Linked DNA regions of Homo sapiens. The protein of the gene in region 1 interacts with the protein of each later gene in a biochemical or structural test. Each region holds a gene or a part of one and is shown on either strand. Other genes may lie near its edges.

What was found.
Region 2: the proteins of CEACAM1 (region 1) and ANXA2 form a complex in vitro, tested with the Homo sapiens proteins (one study listed by BioGRID).

Annotation. Positions count from the first base shown.
Region 1 is NC_000019.10:42,510,387-42,518,903, forward strand, and holds part of CEACAM1 (cell adhesion molecule CEACAM1 isoform 1 precursor), read right to left. Parts: intron 4,718-8,517; coding exon of another isoform or gene 4,625-4,717; intron 2,094-4,624; coding exon 1,964-2,093; intron 1,243-1,963; coding exon 1,190-1,242; intron 535-1,189; coding exon 503-534; intron 1-502.
Region 2 is NC_000015.10:60,345,881-60,353,733, reverse strand, and holds the end of ANXA2 (annexin A2), read left to right. Parts: intron 1-1,257; coding exon 1,258-1,351; intron 1,352-1,914; coding exon 1,915-2,010; intron 2,011-2,482; coding exon 2,483-2,541; intron 2,542-4,536; coding exon 4,537-4,659; intron 4,660-6,044; coding exon 6,045-6,104; 3' UTR 6,105-6,583; downstream 6,584-7,853. UniProt on the Homo sapiens protein: Calcium-regulated membrane-binding protein whose affinity for calcium is greatly enhanced by anionic phospholipids. It binds two calcium ions with high affinity. May be involved in heat-stress response.

The DNA.
Region 1 (8,517 bases):
TAAAATGAAAAATTCTATAAAATTATTATTAAAAAACAGGATCTCAGATCTATTAAAATTGAAATTATCCTTTTGACAATAAGAGCAGGATCAGACTGAAGGTAGGGGAGTGAGAATGATTCAGTGCCTTCCTTTTTTAGGCCATTGTGCTGGGTGCTCTTTGTAGGTTATCTCGTTTAATCCCTTCAACTTCTCTTTGAAGTAGGCAGAATGCCCATTTTACAGATGACAAAGCTGATGATCAAAGAGGTTAAGTTACTTGACAAGGGTCACAGAGCTACTAAGAGTCACATCCAGTATTCAGACACAGGATGGGAATAATTCCAAAATGCATGTTCTTGCTGCAAAGTAGACTCATGGGAGTGATTACAAATACGTCTTTGTTGTTGCACTGAGGAACATTAACCCAAACTTGATGTTACATTGTGTCTTCATGAATAATCAATTCTACACAGAATCATTTCCATGAGAAAATAAGCCCATGAAAACCGGCTATGCTTACCTTGTTAGGTGGGTCATTGGAGTGGTCCTGAGCTGGAGAAGCAAAAGAAGAGTTAGCGATCCATGGAAATGCAAAGCTGACTTCAGGTGATTCTAGCTGAAGGAGGTGGCAGTTGGAGGGTGGGGAGTTTAAGGATCAGTTAAGGAATTTACTTCCCTCAGAGTGTATGGTCCAGACCCAGCATGTTAGTACCAGAGAGGGGGCAGGGGCAGAACCACAGGAGGCCACAATCCACTTGTGAAGAGTTCTACCAGTTCACAAGGCCTTGATTTTTGCCCAGATGTGTTTCTCAGCAACATGCTCCAGTGGCAAGGAGGGGCATTGAGACTTGTAGCACCCACAGCACCCACAAGATAAGGAAAGTCTCACCAAGGGAGAGTGCCCACATCCGTAATAGAGGCAGGAGGCGGAAGGAGTAAGGCTGAGGAAATGGCTCCTGGAAACATGGGATCTTCCTCAGGCCTGCCTGGCCTAGGCAGAGTGAGCCTCTCTCCTCAGATGTGTCTCAGGGGACTCCTGTGGCTAGGAAGGGTGGGAAGACCTATGCCACCTTAGGGTTGGGAAATAGAGATCCTTTCTGTGAAAATTCAGAAGGGAGGGAGTGGTTTGGGAATCCAGGATTCCCTGCCAGGGGAGGGCACGTGGTGGAACATACCAGTTCTCACTGGGGTAAGTGGCTTTACTTACTGTGGTTGGAGACTGAGGGTTTGTGCTCTGTGAGATCACGCTGGTCGCTTGCCCTAAATAAATATCAGAAACTGTGACTGCTATTCCCAAGCACAGGATCTTTGTTCCGTAAGTTAGGAAGGACACTGTGAGCAGGTAATTCCTTAGAGTCCTTGATGTTCATACTGCCTTTCTTCTGAGGGCCTCGTTCTTCAGTCTAACTACAATCCCTTCTAGTGTTTACTCTTTTCCTGTTTGCTGGATGTTCACATTTCATTTCATTCTTTATCAGCTGCTTCTGTGCCTACTTCTATCCTTAAAACCTTTCCCATTTTGTTTTCCGGGGTAGATACTTTTTTTTTTTTCTCTATTTATTGTTCAAGAGGACTTTGGTTGTTTTTGCTTTCTCTTAGGTTCTCTTCCTATGCTATTTCTCCCTCCTCTTCCAATGTGGTCAACAGAGCACATGACTTGCTTTCTCCTGCTGCTTCTTTCATTTTTTCATTTGTTTTCCTTCTTAGACCTTGCTTTCCCTGACTAGGGGACAGAGGAACATACTTGAGTCTCTTCCTCTAGATTAGATGGGGATTGGAATACCCATGTCCAAGAGATAATGGGAGACAGGGAGCACGAAGACCAGGGAAGAGGAAACCTGTGGGAATTAGTGCCGAGAAGCAGGAGTTTAGTGGGAGGAGTATGAGATCCAGGCCCAGAGACAGGCAAAGAATTCTTTCCCTCTCCCAAGCATGGCAGTCAGCCTTGGAGGAAACAGAACAAGAGGAAAGGCCATCATACCTGCCGGTCTTCCCGAAATGCAGAAAACATGCCAGGGCTACTGCTATCAGAGCAACCAGGGCCACTACTCCAATCACAATGCCAGCAATGGCCCCAGGTGAGAGGCCATTTTCTTGTGGTAGAGCATTATCTGTCATGGAGAGAAAAGAGGAGAAGAAATGAAAGTGAAATTATTTTACAATGGGGGCTGGGAAACAACTCTCAGAATGAAGTAGTTTCTAATTGTTCCTTCAAGGAATACAGTTTCGTTGTGGGAAGGTTGCTGGAAGGTGATTAGCTAACTATATCCTTGCAATTTTTTTTTTTCAATCACCATGTTTCTTTTTTTCTTTTCTTTTTTTTTTTTGAGACAGAGTCTTGCTCTGTCTCTCAGGCTGGAGTGCAGTAGCATGATCTTGGCTCACTGCAACCTCCGCCTCCCAGGTTCAAGCGATTCTCCTGCCTCAGGCTGGACTACAGGCACGTGCCACCACACCTGGCTAATTTCTGTATTTTTTTAGTAGAGACGGGGTTTCACCATATTGGTCAGACTGGTCTTGAACTCCTGACCTCATGATCCGCCTGCCTCGGCCTCCCAAAGTGCTTGGATTATAGGCGTGAGCCACTGCGCCCAACCCCAGTCACCATGTTTCTAGGTTGATGATCTCTCTTCTGCCAATTCCACCCTGGCTTTTCTGCGCTCAGCCATTTTTAAGGCTTTGAAATATGAGAAAGGCTGATTGCTATTTTGTATGTGATTAGAACTTTCCACCTTTTTCGTGGTTGCATCTTTTTCTCAGTGTCTCAGTTGTGGCAGTTGGTGCATTCTGAATTCACCACCTCTTTTGCATAGAGAACTGGCTTCCCACAGGCTCCCAGCAGGGGTATGAAAGCTAGCCCAGTTTTGTGTGACTGTTTTATTCTGAAGTGTGAATGGCTGGAGGACTCCCTGTCAGCCTTGCAGAAATGCTCTTAGAACTGCACTGCAGGCCGGGCGCGGTGGCTGACGCCTGTAATCCCAGAACTTTGGGAGGCTGAGGCGGGTGGATCACGAGGTCAGGAGTTCAAGACCAGCCTGGCCAAGATGGTGAAACCCTATCTCTACTAAAAATACAAAATTTAGCTGGGTGCGGTGGCAGGTGCCTATAATCCCAGCTACTTGAGAGGCTGAGGCAGGAGAATCGCTTGAACCCGGGGGGCAGAGGTTTCAGTGAGCCGAGATCACACTACTGCACTCAAGCCTGGGCAACAGAGTGAGACTCTGTCTCAAAAAACAAACAAACAAAAACTGCACTTCAATCTAAAACTTCCTTCCTCTCTTTCTCTTCCACAGGAATCAGATCTGCATCATGGTCTGAGGTTCCTCTCACTCTCGCCTTACTTTCCCTCACAGGCATTTTCCCCAATAAATTATCTCGTATGTTTAATCCCATCTTCACTGTATCTCAGTAGATGGAAACTAACATACCAGGCTTGAGACTTTGCTTTACCTCCTTTTTTCCCCCTTTCCCATATTTGATCATAGCCATGTCCCAGTGGGTTTCTTGTATAATGCTTCTCCCTCCATATATATATATATATATATATATAATATATAAATAATACCTTTTGCATCTATTTCTTCTTCTTCTTTTTTTTTTTTTTTTTTTTTGAGGCAGGTTCTCACTCTATCACCCAGGCTGGAGTGCAGTGGCACAATCATGGCTCATTGTAGCCTCTTGGGATCAAGTGATCCTCCCACCTCAGTCTCCTCAGTAGCTGAGACTATAAGCACATGCCACCACACCTGGCTAATTTTTTTCTTTCTTTTTTTTTTTTTTGAGACCGAGTTTTGCTCTTGTTGCCTAGGCTAGAGTGCAATGGCGTGATCTCGGCTCACTGCAACCTCTGCCTCCCAGGTTCAAGCGATTCTCCTACCTCAGCCTCCTGAATTGCTGGGATTACAGGCATGCGCCACCACGCCTGGCTAATTTTGTATTTTTAGTAGAGACGGGGTTTCTCCATCCTGGTCAGGCTGGTCTTGAACTCCCGACCTCAGGTGACCCGCCTGCCTCAACCTCCCAAAGTGTTGGGATTACAGGCGTGAGCCACCACGCCCACCCACCTGGCTAATTAAAAAAAAATAATTTTTGTAGAGATAGGGTTCCACTATATTGCCTAGGCTGGTCTTGGATTCCTGGGCTCAAGAGATCCTCCAGCCTCGGCCTCCCAAATGTTGGGATTACAGGTGTGAGCCACTGTGTCTAGCCTATTTCTTGTTTATATCTGTTGCAACTATTTGGGGCTTAACCCTCACCAGTCAACTCAGGCTGGTGACTAATGCTATGTTAGCTACTTTTGTGGAGTACTTCCTGTGTGCCAGGCCCTGTGCTGCTAAATGCTTTACATGTATCTTATTTGATCCATAAAATAGTGCTGTCAGGTAGACATTATTTCCATTTTAAACATGAAAAAATGGAAGCTTAGAGTGGTAAAAGGCTTACCTAAAGTCAGATGGCTAGTGAGAGGTGGATCTGAGATTTGACCCTAGGACTACCTGATTTCAAGGCTAATGATAATAGTAGTAGTAATAGCAGCTAACATTTATGAAACATTTCCTCTGTGTGTGGTGTTTTGCTGAAGGTTTATTATTACATTAAATCTTTAAAATAACACTATGGGGCCAGGCGTGGTGGCTCACACCTGTAATCTCAGCACTTTGGGAAACAGATGGGAGGATTGCTTGAGCCCAGGAGTTCGAGTCCAGCCTGGGTAACATGGTGAGATTCTGTCTCTCTGAAAACAAAAATAAAAATAAATTAGCCAGATGTGGTAGTATGTACTACTTAGGAGGCTAAGGTGAGGGAATTGCTTGAGCCCAGGAGGTTGAGGCTGCAGTGAGCTGTGTTTGCACCACTGCACTCCAGTCTGGGTGACAGAGTGACACCCTGTCTCAAAAACAAAACAAAAACCCCAAACCCGTGCAATACTATGGAGCAGGCATTCACAGTGCAATTTTCGGTTGAGGAATCCGAGGCTCAGAGTAGTTAAGAATCTTGTGCAAGAAAGAAATTTATAACTGTAGGCCAGGTACAGTGGTGTATGACTGTAATCCCAGCAATTTGGGAGGCTGAGGCAGGTGTATCACTTGAGCTCAGGAATTTGAGACCAGCTGGGCAAGATGGTGAAACCCTGTCTCTACAAAAAATTACAAAAATTAGCCGGAGGTGGTAGTGCTTGTCTGTAGTTTCAGCTACCCAGGAGGCTGAAGCAGGAGGATTGCTTGAACCCGGGAAGTTGAGGCTGTGGTGAGCCATGATCAGCCTCGGTGACAGAGTGAGAACCTGTCTCAAACCGAAAAAAAAAAGTTGTTCTTCAAAAAAGATCACTATAATTGACAACTGTTAATTAGATTGACTAAGAAAGAAAGAAGATTCAAATTACTAAAGTCAGAAATGAAAGTAAAACATTACTACTAATTCTGCAGAAATAATAAGGATTATAAGAGTACTATGAGTAATTGAATGCCAACAAATTGGATAACCTGGATGAAATGAACAAATTCCTAGAAACACAAAACCTGCCATGATAGAATCATGAATAAATAGAAAATCTGAATAGACCTATAACCAGTAATGAAAATGAGTCGATAAAAGCATTTGACAAAATTCAACATTCTTTCATGCTAAAAAACACTGAAACTAGGAATAGAAGGAAATTCTCAACATAATAAATGCTACATGTGAAAACCCCCAGCTACCATCATAGTCAATGGTGAAAGATTGAAAACTTTTCCTTTAAGATCAAGAACAAGACAAGGATGCCTGCTTTTGCCATTTCTATTCAATGTAGTATTGGAAGACCTAGACAGAACAATTAGGCAAGAAAAAAAAAGCATCTAGATTGGAAAGAAGTAAAATTATACCTGTTTGCAGAATACACTAACTTATATATAGAAAACCCTAGAGATTCCACAAAAAAACTGTTAGAATAATAAATTTAGCAAAGTGGCAGGATACAAAATCCACATGCAAAAATCAGTTGTATTTTTGTATACTAATAACAATTCAAAGGAAAATTAAGAAAAAAATTCTATTTATAAGAGCTTTAAAAATACTTAGAAATAAACTTAACCAAAGAGGTGAAAGATTTGTACCCTGAAAATACAAAACATTGCCAAAAGAAATTAAATAAGACATAAATTGAAAAGACACCCCATTTTCATGGATTAGAAGACTTAATATTGTTAAGATGACAGTACTACCCAAAGTGATCTACAGATTCAGTGCAATCTCTATCAAAATTCCAGTAATATTTTTTGCAGAAATAGAAAAATTCATTCTAAAATTTATATAGACTCTGAAGGGACCATGGATAGCCAAAGCAATCTTGAAAAAGAACAAAGTTGAAGGGCTCACACTTCCTGGTTTCAAAATTTTTTACAAAGCTATGGTAATCATCACACCTGTAATCTTAGCACTTTGGGAGGTGGAGGCGGGTGGATTGCTTGAGCTCAGGAGTTTGAGACCAGCCTTGGCAACATGGTGAAACGCCATCTCTACAAAGAAAAGCAAAAAAACAAAACAAAACAAAAAAACCCAAACAACAACAATAAAACAAACAAACAAAATCCAAAAGCTACAGTAATCAAAACAGTATGGTACTGGCAAAAAGAAATAGAAACCAGTGGAATAAAATATAGAGCCCAGAAAGAAATGTTTGCATACATAGCCAAATGTTTTTTGACAAGGGTGCCAAGATCATTCAGTGGGGAAAGGATAGTCTTTTCAACAAATGGCATTGAAGAAACTGGATATCCATGCAAAAGAATGAAATTGAACCTTTATGTAACACCATATATAAAAATTAATTCAAAATGCATAAAAGACCTAAATGTAAGAGCTAAAACTATAAAGCTCTTGGAAGATAGAGTGAAAACTTTGGAACATTGAATTTGGCAATGATTTCTTGGCTATGACACTAAAAGCATAGGCAACGAAAGAAGAAGTAGAGAAATTGGACTTAATGAAAATTAAAAGCTTTTGTGTATCAAAGCACATTATCACAAAAGTGAAAAGACTTCTTATAGAATGGGAGAAAATATTTGAGAATCATATATCTGATAAGGGATTAATATCCAAAATATATAAAGAACTACTGCAACTCAACCAAAAATCCCCAAACAACCTAATTAAAACATGGGCAAAGGACTTGAATAAACATTTCTCCAAAGAAGATAAATGGCAAATAAGCACATGAAAAGATGCTAAATATTGCTAATCATTAGGGAAGTGCAAATCAAAACTCCAATGATATACCACCTTATAACCATTAGGATGGCCATTATAAAAAACAAAACAAAACCAGAAAGCAACAAATGTTTTTGAAGATGTAGAGAAATTGGAACTCTAGTGCATTGCTGGTGGGAATGTGAAATGGTATAGCCACTGTGGAAAATGGTATGATGGTTCTTCAAAATTAAACAGGATTACCATTTGATCCAGCAATTCCACTTCTGAGTATCTATTTAAAAGAACTGAAAGCAGGGATTTGAACAGATATTTGTATACCCATGTTTGTAATAGCATTATTCATAATAGCCAAAAGGTGGAAGCAACCTAACTGTCCATAGATGGATGAGTGGATAAGCAAAATGTGATGTATCTATCTACACAGCATAATATTATTCAGTCTCCAAAAGGAATGAAATTCTGATACATTCTACAACATAGATGGAGCTTGAAGACATTGTGCTAAATGAAGTAAGCCAGACACAAAAGGACAAATATTGCATGCTTCCATCTGTATGAGAGGTACTTAGAATAGTTAAATACGGGGTGGGCAGAGTGGCTCATTCCTGTAATCCCAGCACTTTGGGAGGCCGAGGCTGAGACCAGGAGATTGAGACCAGCCTGGGCAACACAGTGAAACCCCAACTCTACAAAAAAACTTAAAAACTTAGCCAGGCATGGTGGTGCAACCTGTAGTCCCAGCTACTCTGGAGGCTGAGGTGGCAGGATTGCTTGAACCCAGGGGATTGAGGCGGGAGTGAGCTTTGATCACACCACAGCACTCCAGCCTGGGTGACAGAGTGAGACCCTGTCTCAAAACAACAAAACAAACAAAAAAACCCAACCAACCAAAAAAAACCAACTAAGTATATGTATATTTGATTCAGAGCCTGAGCTCTTTTTTTTTTTTTTTTTTTGAGACAGAGTCTTGCTCTGTTGCCTAGACTGGAGTGCAGTGGCACCATCTCGGCTCACTGAAAGCTCCGCCTCCCAGGTTCACGCCATTCTCCCGCCTCAGCCTCCCGAGTAGCTGGGACTACAGGCGCCCGCCACCATGCCCGGCTAATTTTTTTTTGTATTTTTAGTAGACACGGGGTTTCACCATATTAGCCAGGATGGTCTCGATCTCCTGCCCTCGTGATCCGCCCGCCTTGGCCTCCCAAACTGCTGGGATTACAGGCGTGAGCCACTGTGCCCGGCCTGAGCTGAGCTCTTAACCACTTTGCAATTCTGTTTGCTATAATGGTCTCTTCATTGATATTCTGCCTCCTGTGAGTTTTATCCATTTTGCACACCATTGACAGA
Region 2 (7,853 bases), on another chromosome or scaffold:
TGACCTAACCTCAGGAGTCCCACCTTGCACTGCTGTCATACTCTTTTCATTAAAAGTGAGTCACTGAGTCTAGCCCACACTCAGTGGGAGGGGATTAGGCTCTTCCTTTGGAAGGGAGGAACCTCAAAGAATTTCTGGCCGTATTTTAAACCCACCATAGTCTGACAGCAATGTTTATTAGAAGACATTCTCTTATAATGCTGGTGTTACTTACAGAATCAATACGTGACTCACATATGCTCACTCAGGCTTTGCTTGTATGGAAGCATCAGTTTCTGCAGAGTGTAATGTGGCTGTGCATACCAATCAGGCAGGCAGGTGGGAAGCAGAAGAAGGTGGAGGAGACACAGCCAGGGACAGGATGGTGTACTGCTCTGTTGTGGTGGGGGAGAAAGGGAGGCCAGCAGAGACCTGTCCTTTTCTGGCTGAATAAGACTTTTGCCAGTTCTAGTTCCATTATCTCTGAGAACTATTTGTTAAGCTTATTCAGACTGCAATGAACTATATTCTTTACTCAGAGGGACAACGATTATCTCAAAGTAAGTCATAAAAGCTGCAGAAAAAAATTAATTTAAATTAATGTTAGTTTTAAAATTCAATATATTCCACACGGCACTTCTAGCAGGTAGTAGAGAAGGGTTTTAAATAAAGTAATAGAAGTTGGGTTTTGCAGTTCCTAGATGGTGGAAGATCACGGAATGAATATCTACCCTTGCATAAGCCTTTCTTCCTCTTGCCCTCCCTGCCATTGTTAGGGCTACTTGTAGCCCCTAAATTTTCCAGAAACTGAAAGTGAGATGAGATGGGCTCCTTTTCCAGCTCCATCACTCCCTGAGTCTCTGAGAAGCTTGAGAATGAGAGCCTGGTCTGTAGCTGTCCAGTAAACATCTGCTAGCTTATCTGCCCCTAAATGTGCCCAAAGGGAGGAGGGCCAGATGTGTTAATGAACATTTACTTGTTCTTCTTTATATGAATACAAGCTCTTGGTCCCTCCTTTCTTATTCAAGGAAGGAGATTGTACAGCAGACCTCACGAACTATCTGCAGTCTCATATGGTATCCATCTGTGCCTAAGGAAGACTGCTTGTGATTAAGACTTTTGACCTAAATAGTAGGTCTCTGCCCATGTCTGCAGTATAATCATCTTTCCTCGTTTGGCATTTTGAATGTGTAGCTTTTTTTGTTTTTTTTGCATGACATTTTTTTTGACGTTACATTGGATGTGTAGTTAACTTTTCCTGGTTGGTTGTACTCGTAGGATCTCTATGACGCTGGAGTGAAGAGGAAAGGAACTGATGTTCCCAAGTGGATCAGCATCATGACCGAGCGGAGCGTGCCCCACCTCCAGAAAGGTGGGCACTGTGCTGAGGGAGTCTCAGTGCCTTGGGGCCCTGGCTGGGGCGGCTGGGTGGATGTCCATGTTGGGATGGAGTCTGCCAGAATGAGGTTCTGTCTCCGCTTGGCACTCTCATAGGCTCACCCATTTTCCCTCACCTTTCTCTCCCATTCTGGATTCTTTTCTCTTGCAAATAGTTTCTGCATTTGGTGCTTTATTCTGCAGCTCCTTCTTGTTTGATGATCATTTGGTCTTGCCATTATTTGTTGAAGTAGTGGACTTTGGTGCATGCTCTGTACTGTTTCCTATGGTTTTCGGATGGAATGGGTTCCACTCAGGGGAGATAGAGATGGTCCAAATATGTGGCCTGGGCAGTGCCATTCAGGACAGGTGGTATGGCTGTTCCACGACAAACTTGGCCAATGTTGGCTCTGGTCACCGTGGTAACCTCTAAGCTCCTAGGATGCTGTGATCATCCTCAATTTTTAAAAAAATTATGGTGCATAAAACTAGGTGGGTGATCGTTGACAGCTTTGACTAGTGGCTCGGATCTGATAACTCTTTGTTGTTTTTCCTCAGTATTTGATAGGTACAAGAGTTACAGCCCTTATGACATGTTGGAAAGCATCAGGAAAGAGGTTAAAGGAGACCTGGAAAATGCTTTCCTGAACCTGGGTAAGTGAATGTGGCCCCCATTCCTGGTAGACATCAGCTACCAGAGCAGAAGTGACAGATGGCCATCCTGTTAATCCAAATGTGTTTGGGAGGTGTGGCTTCTATGCATGCTTTGGATAGTTTTACAGTCTTAATTGTATAGATTTCAGAATATAAAACTGAAGAAAGGCCTAACTTGGTAACAGATTGTTGCCAGGGAGGAGTAAGAGAACAGGAGGAGAGAGGGGTGTGTTGTGGAAACTCACGTATGCACTTGGGTTCTGCAGGCCTCAGAGACCCCTGGTTTAAAACCGTGGTGGAACTTAGTATTGCAGAGGATTTCTAGATTTCCCTTAGCCTGTCCTATTTTGCAGCCCTTTTCCATTGCATTAGGTCACTTCTGGTTTGTGGCCCAGGGCCAGGGCATCCTCTCTCATTGGTAGAGGAGAGACCAGAGCAGCTGCAGCGCTGACTCCCTTTCTTCTCTCCACAGTTCAGTGCATTCAGAACAAGCCCCTGTATTTTGCTGATCGGCTGTATGACTCCATGAAGGTAAGGGCAGCTGGCTGAGAGAGCTGTGTTTCCACACTCAGCTTTTCTTCTTTTGGGTCCCAAATTGAGTCTCCTTGATTCATGGATGGAGGAAGGGGACCCCACTGTGTGGATGCAGGAACACACTAGTCAGCTGTGGTTGTATGTGACAGCTGAGAGAACCACAAATCTGTCTTCTTTCTCTCAGCTGCTTGAACATGTATTTGCGTACAGACAAAAAGTAAAGTGCCATGGGAGAGAGAAAATGCGACATGGTAGTCGTGTCTGATCCCTGCTTAGGTTTCTCCGTGATTTCTTCCTGTTACTGCCAGAGTCAAGACAAGCGAGGAAGGGAGCGATTATTAAGCACCCACTATACAGTGGACAAGTGCTACTATTTTACCTTAAATCATTGCATAACAACCTCTGAGGCTTATGATTATCTTCTTTATAAATGCAGAGATGGAGCTCAGAATACCTCAGCCTGCTTGAAGTTACACAGACAGATTTGAACCTGGGTCTATCAGACCCCAAAGACAGCCCCACAACCCTTCCCTAAACGAACCACCTCTTCCCGTAGACCCATCCCATTTTCTACACCTCAAGTGTGCCATGTGTTTTCTGGCTTCTAGGCTTTTGCATTTTCCTTCTGGAACATCTCCCTTGTCTGTGCTGCCTCTGCCATCTGTCTTTGAGTTCCATATCAAATAGCACCCCTTGGTGCCTTCGCTCTGATGCTCTGGAAGTAAACTCAGTGGTCTTTATTGCACATATCATTAGAAATGGCACAGAGCGATGATAGAAATGTGTTGGCATGTTCCCTCTAAGCCTGCAAGAGTCAGGAACCTCTTGTTACATATGGAGACTCAGACTGCTTGAACTGAGCCTTGCAGTAGTAGGTGCTCAGTATATATTTATTGAATGGTGGCATAGAGTGGGAGTCTGTGCTGACTACAGCCTGGTGTGTTTGGAATTCCCAGATGCTCTTCTTTCTTTTCTTTTCTTGTCTTGTCTTTTTTTTTCTTTCTTTTTTCCTCCCTCCCTCCCTGCCTTCCCCTGCCTCCCTGCCTTCCCCTCCCTCCCTGCCTTCCCCTCCCTCCCTGCCTTCCCCTCCCTCCCTGCCTTCCCCTCCCTCCCTGCCTTCCCCTGCCTCCCTGCCTTCCCCTCCCTCCCTGCCTTCCCCTGCCTCCCTGCCTTCCCCTCCCTCCCTGCCTTCCCCTGCCTCCCTGCCTTCCCCTCCCTCCCTGCCTTCCCCTGCCTCCCTGCCTTCCCCTGCCTCCCTGCCTTCCCCTGCCTCCCTGCCTTCCCCTGCCTCCCTGCCTTCTCCTGCCTCCTTGCCTTCCCCTGCCTCCCTGCCTTCACCTCCCTCCCTTTCCTTCCCCTCCCTCCCTTTCCTTCCTTTCCCTTTCCCTTTCTTCTCTCTTTCTCTCTCCTTCCTTCCTTCCCTTTTTCTTTCTTTCTCTCTTTCTTTCTCTCTCTCTCTCTGTCTTTCCCTCTCTCTCTCTGTCTTTCCTTTCTTATAGGTTTTTGGGAAACAAGTAGTGTTCGGTTACATGAATAAGTTCTTTCGTGGTGATTTTTGAGATTTTGGTGTACTTATCACCCAGGCAGTGTACACTGTGCCCTAATATCCCTTATCCAAAATGCTTGGGACCAGGAATGTTTTATATCTCAGATTTATTTTTGATTTTGTAATATTTGCATATATATGATGAAATATTTTAGGGATGGGACCCAAGTCTAAACTTGAGATTCATTTATGTTTTATATAGACCTTACACACATAGCCTAAAGGTAATTTTATACAACGCTTTTGATAATTTTGTGCATGAAACAGTTTGTGTTAAGTGCTGTATGTGGAATTTTTCATTGTGGCATCATGTCGGCACTGAAAAAGTTTTGGATTTTGGAGCATTTTAGATTTCAGATTTTCAGATCAGGGATGCTCAACCTGTAGACGCTTTCTTTAACGATAACATTCTCAGCGAATGTAACAAATATCAACTTGATTTTCAGGGCAAGGGGACGCGAGATAAGGTCCTGATCAGAATCATGGTCTCCCGCAGTGAAGTGGACATGTTGAAAATTAGGTCTGAATTCAAGAGAAAGTACGGCAAGTCCCTGTACTATTATATCCAGGTAAGCCCGAGGTGCAGTGTCAGCCTGCCCTGCCGTCCAGAGCACCCCGGGCCCTGGCAGGTGGCCTGGCAGAATGATGACAGAGTGGCGATTTTCTGTTTTCTGACTCTCTGGGGAAGAGATGCTAGTCATCAACTATCAGGGATTTATTTTGAAAGCACCATTTGTGATTTGTCCTGGACTTTGTACAATCAGGCAGATGTTTTATATTTTTCACATCTGTTACTCTACAATGATCATCGGTGTTCATGACGATGATCCTGCAAGGCTTGCTGACATCCCGAAGAGGCTTGGAAGATCAGTTACATTTTACTTTTTTTTTTTTTTTTGAGACGGAGTCTTGCTCTCTCGCCCAGGCTGGAGTGCAGTGGCCACAATCTCGGCTCACTGCAACCTCCGACTTCTGGGTTCACACCATTTTCCTGCCTCAGCCTCCCAAGTAGCTAGGACTACAGGCGCCCGCCACCACACCCGGCTAATTTTTTTGTATTTTTAGTAGAGACAGGGTTTCACCGTGTTAGCCAGGATGGTCTCGATCTCCTGACCTCGTGATCCGCCCGCCTCGGCCTCCCAAAGTGCTGGGATGACAGGCGTGAGCCACTGCGCCCGGCCACATTTTACTTTTATTATGCATTGGTTCCTTGAAAAATCCTCTGGGATAGGCCTAACAACTTTCAGTTATTCAGAACTCCCATCTCTCCAATCAGTTTAGCATCTGTCTGTTTTGATGTGATGTCGCATTTGCAGTAAGGAAGTGATGGCATTCACAGTGGTACCACTGTGTAGATTTCAGACAGCCCTTGCAATTCCCCTTTCTAGAAGTTCCTCAGATGTCCAAAGGCATGCCCATGGTTAGCAAGGATAAAGTTAGAGCTGGATTTTTTGTAGCCAGGTTTATTAGGGCACATGTTTAAAGTCAAAGGACCAGTTAGACTCTTAGTAATTGTTCCTCACCTCACCAGCTTATTTCCACTTGACCTTAATAATGCAGGAAATAGGAGAGTGAGCTAGGAAAGTACCCTGTTTTCTGTGGAAAGACGAGGACGAGAGAGGAAAGTTAGGGTGTTTGTAGGACCTTGCTGCAGTAAGAACAGCCCTGGTCACTAACCTATGTCAATCCTCAGCACCTTGCACTCCCTCCACCCCACAGTCCTAAGGAGCCTTGAGTGTCTTCCCCAGCACCTCCTCCGACCACACTCCTGGAGGCTTCCCTGGCAATGGTTTGGGTGTGGCCTTCCAGGCCTTTGTATCAGGGCAGGTCTCCTGCAGAGTCTTCTCTTTGTCATGGGAGAAGCTTCATTGTGCGTTGAGGCTACTTCTGTGTTATTGAGGAGTCTGGGCTTTTTTCTGATACCACGTTTCTTTTCTTTCCTGGGCCATTGTAGCAAGACACTAAGGGCGACTACCAGAAAGCGCTGCTGTACCTGTGTGGTGGAGATGACTGAAGCCCGACACGGCCTGAGCGTCCAGAAATGGTGCTCACCATGCTTCCAGCTAACAGGTCTAGAAAACCAGCTTGCGAATAACAGTCCCCGTGGCCATCCCTGTGAGGGTGACGTTAGCATTACCCCCAACCTCATTTTAGTTGCCTAAGCATTGCCTGGCCTTCCTGTCTAGTCTCTCCTGTAAGCCAAAGAAATGAACATTCCAAGGAGTTGGAAGTGAAGTCTATGATGTGAAACACTTTGCCTCCTGTGTACTGTGTCATAAACAGATGAATAAACTGAATTTGTACTTTAGAAACACGTACTTTGTGGCCCTGCTTTCAACTGAATTGTTTGAAAATTAAACGTGCTTGGGGTTCAGCTGGTGAGGCTGTCCCTGTAGGAAGAAAGCTCTGGGACTGAGCTGTACAGTATGGTTGCCCCTATCCAAGTGTCGCTATTTAAGTTAAATTTAAATGAAATAAAATAAAATAAAATCAGTTCCTGAGTCACACAATCCACATTTCGAATGCTCAGCTTTCACATGTGGTCAGCAGCTAGTATATCTGGACAGCGCAGGCAGGGAACATTTCGATAGAAAGTTCTGTTGGGCAGCAGTACATGCCCAGGGCATGAGAGGACCTATGGGGGAGAAAAAGGGTCCCAGAGGGACCCCTTATCTGCTTATCTTTCTACAGGTTAATTAGGTGAAAATAAGCATCAGGGGCAGCCACAAACTGGAGAGAGCAGTGGGGCAGGGTGGGGCAGGCTACAGCATTCTGGCAAAGGAGATCCAACACAAGCCGATGGGAAGCACGGAGAAGGGATTTCTTTTGACTGGGAGGATTGAGAAAGATGATAGAGAAAAGGAACAATTTGAGCTGCACACTAAAATCTAAGGTGAGGTTTTACAGCTGGGAGAAAGCACTCCATGCAGGTTCTTAAGGGTCTGGGAATGAATGACAGGTCGCTGATACAATGGTACACATGTCAAAAAGTTCAGAGACTTCTTTCTGTACAGGGAAAGTTATGTCTCTCCCTTACTAGCCAGTGGCCTTCCCTGGAGTCGCCTGGTTTCCAGTACATTTTCATGGATAGACTGCATACGCATGTATATATATGTATCTATCTGTGTTCATAAATGTGAAGGTGCTGTCCCCAGGCTGCTGGTACTGGGTTCTGCAGATTCCTTTTTATACAAGTGCTCCCCATAAGCAGGGTAGAGGGCTGGGAGTGAGGGGAAGTTGACTACTCCTCCTAACCCTTCTCCTTAGTGGAGGGTGTGTCAACTACTCATTTTTGGCACCTGGCTGATGCAGGGCCCACTCAGTCATCTGCAGGGACTAGGTAGGTAATGGAAATGAATGTATGAAATGGGCAGGTTGGACAGAAGTGGGGAATCTGGGGAAAATGGGGAATGCCTGCCTTGCTTGAGGCATTCAAATTCAATTCAAACAACAGTCGTAACAACATGGCATTGACCAAACCAAATACATCCGTGAGCTGATTGGCTGCTATTTTGGCCCTTTGGCAAACTTTAGATGGAAATTTGGATCGAGCATGGCTCTTGGGTCACTAGTGGCCCATAACGTATGTGAAAGGCCCCTGAGATAGTCCTTAAAAAGCAGGTTATGCAAAAATCAGGTATTTTATCAAATGTGTCCTGCCTATACATATTAAAATGGATGCCCCAAATCACAGAATATACTGTTCTGTGTGCTTGGGCAGAGTTCAAGGAACTGCCTAAGAAGCAGGACCTTTCTCATTAAC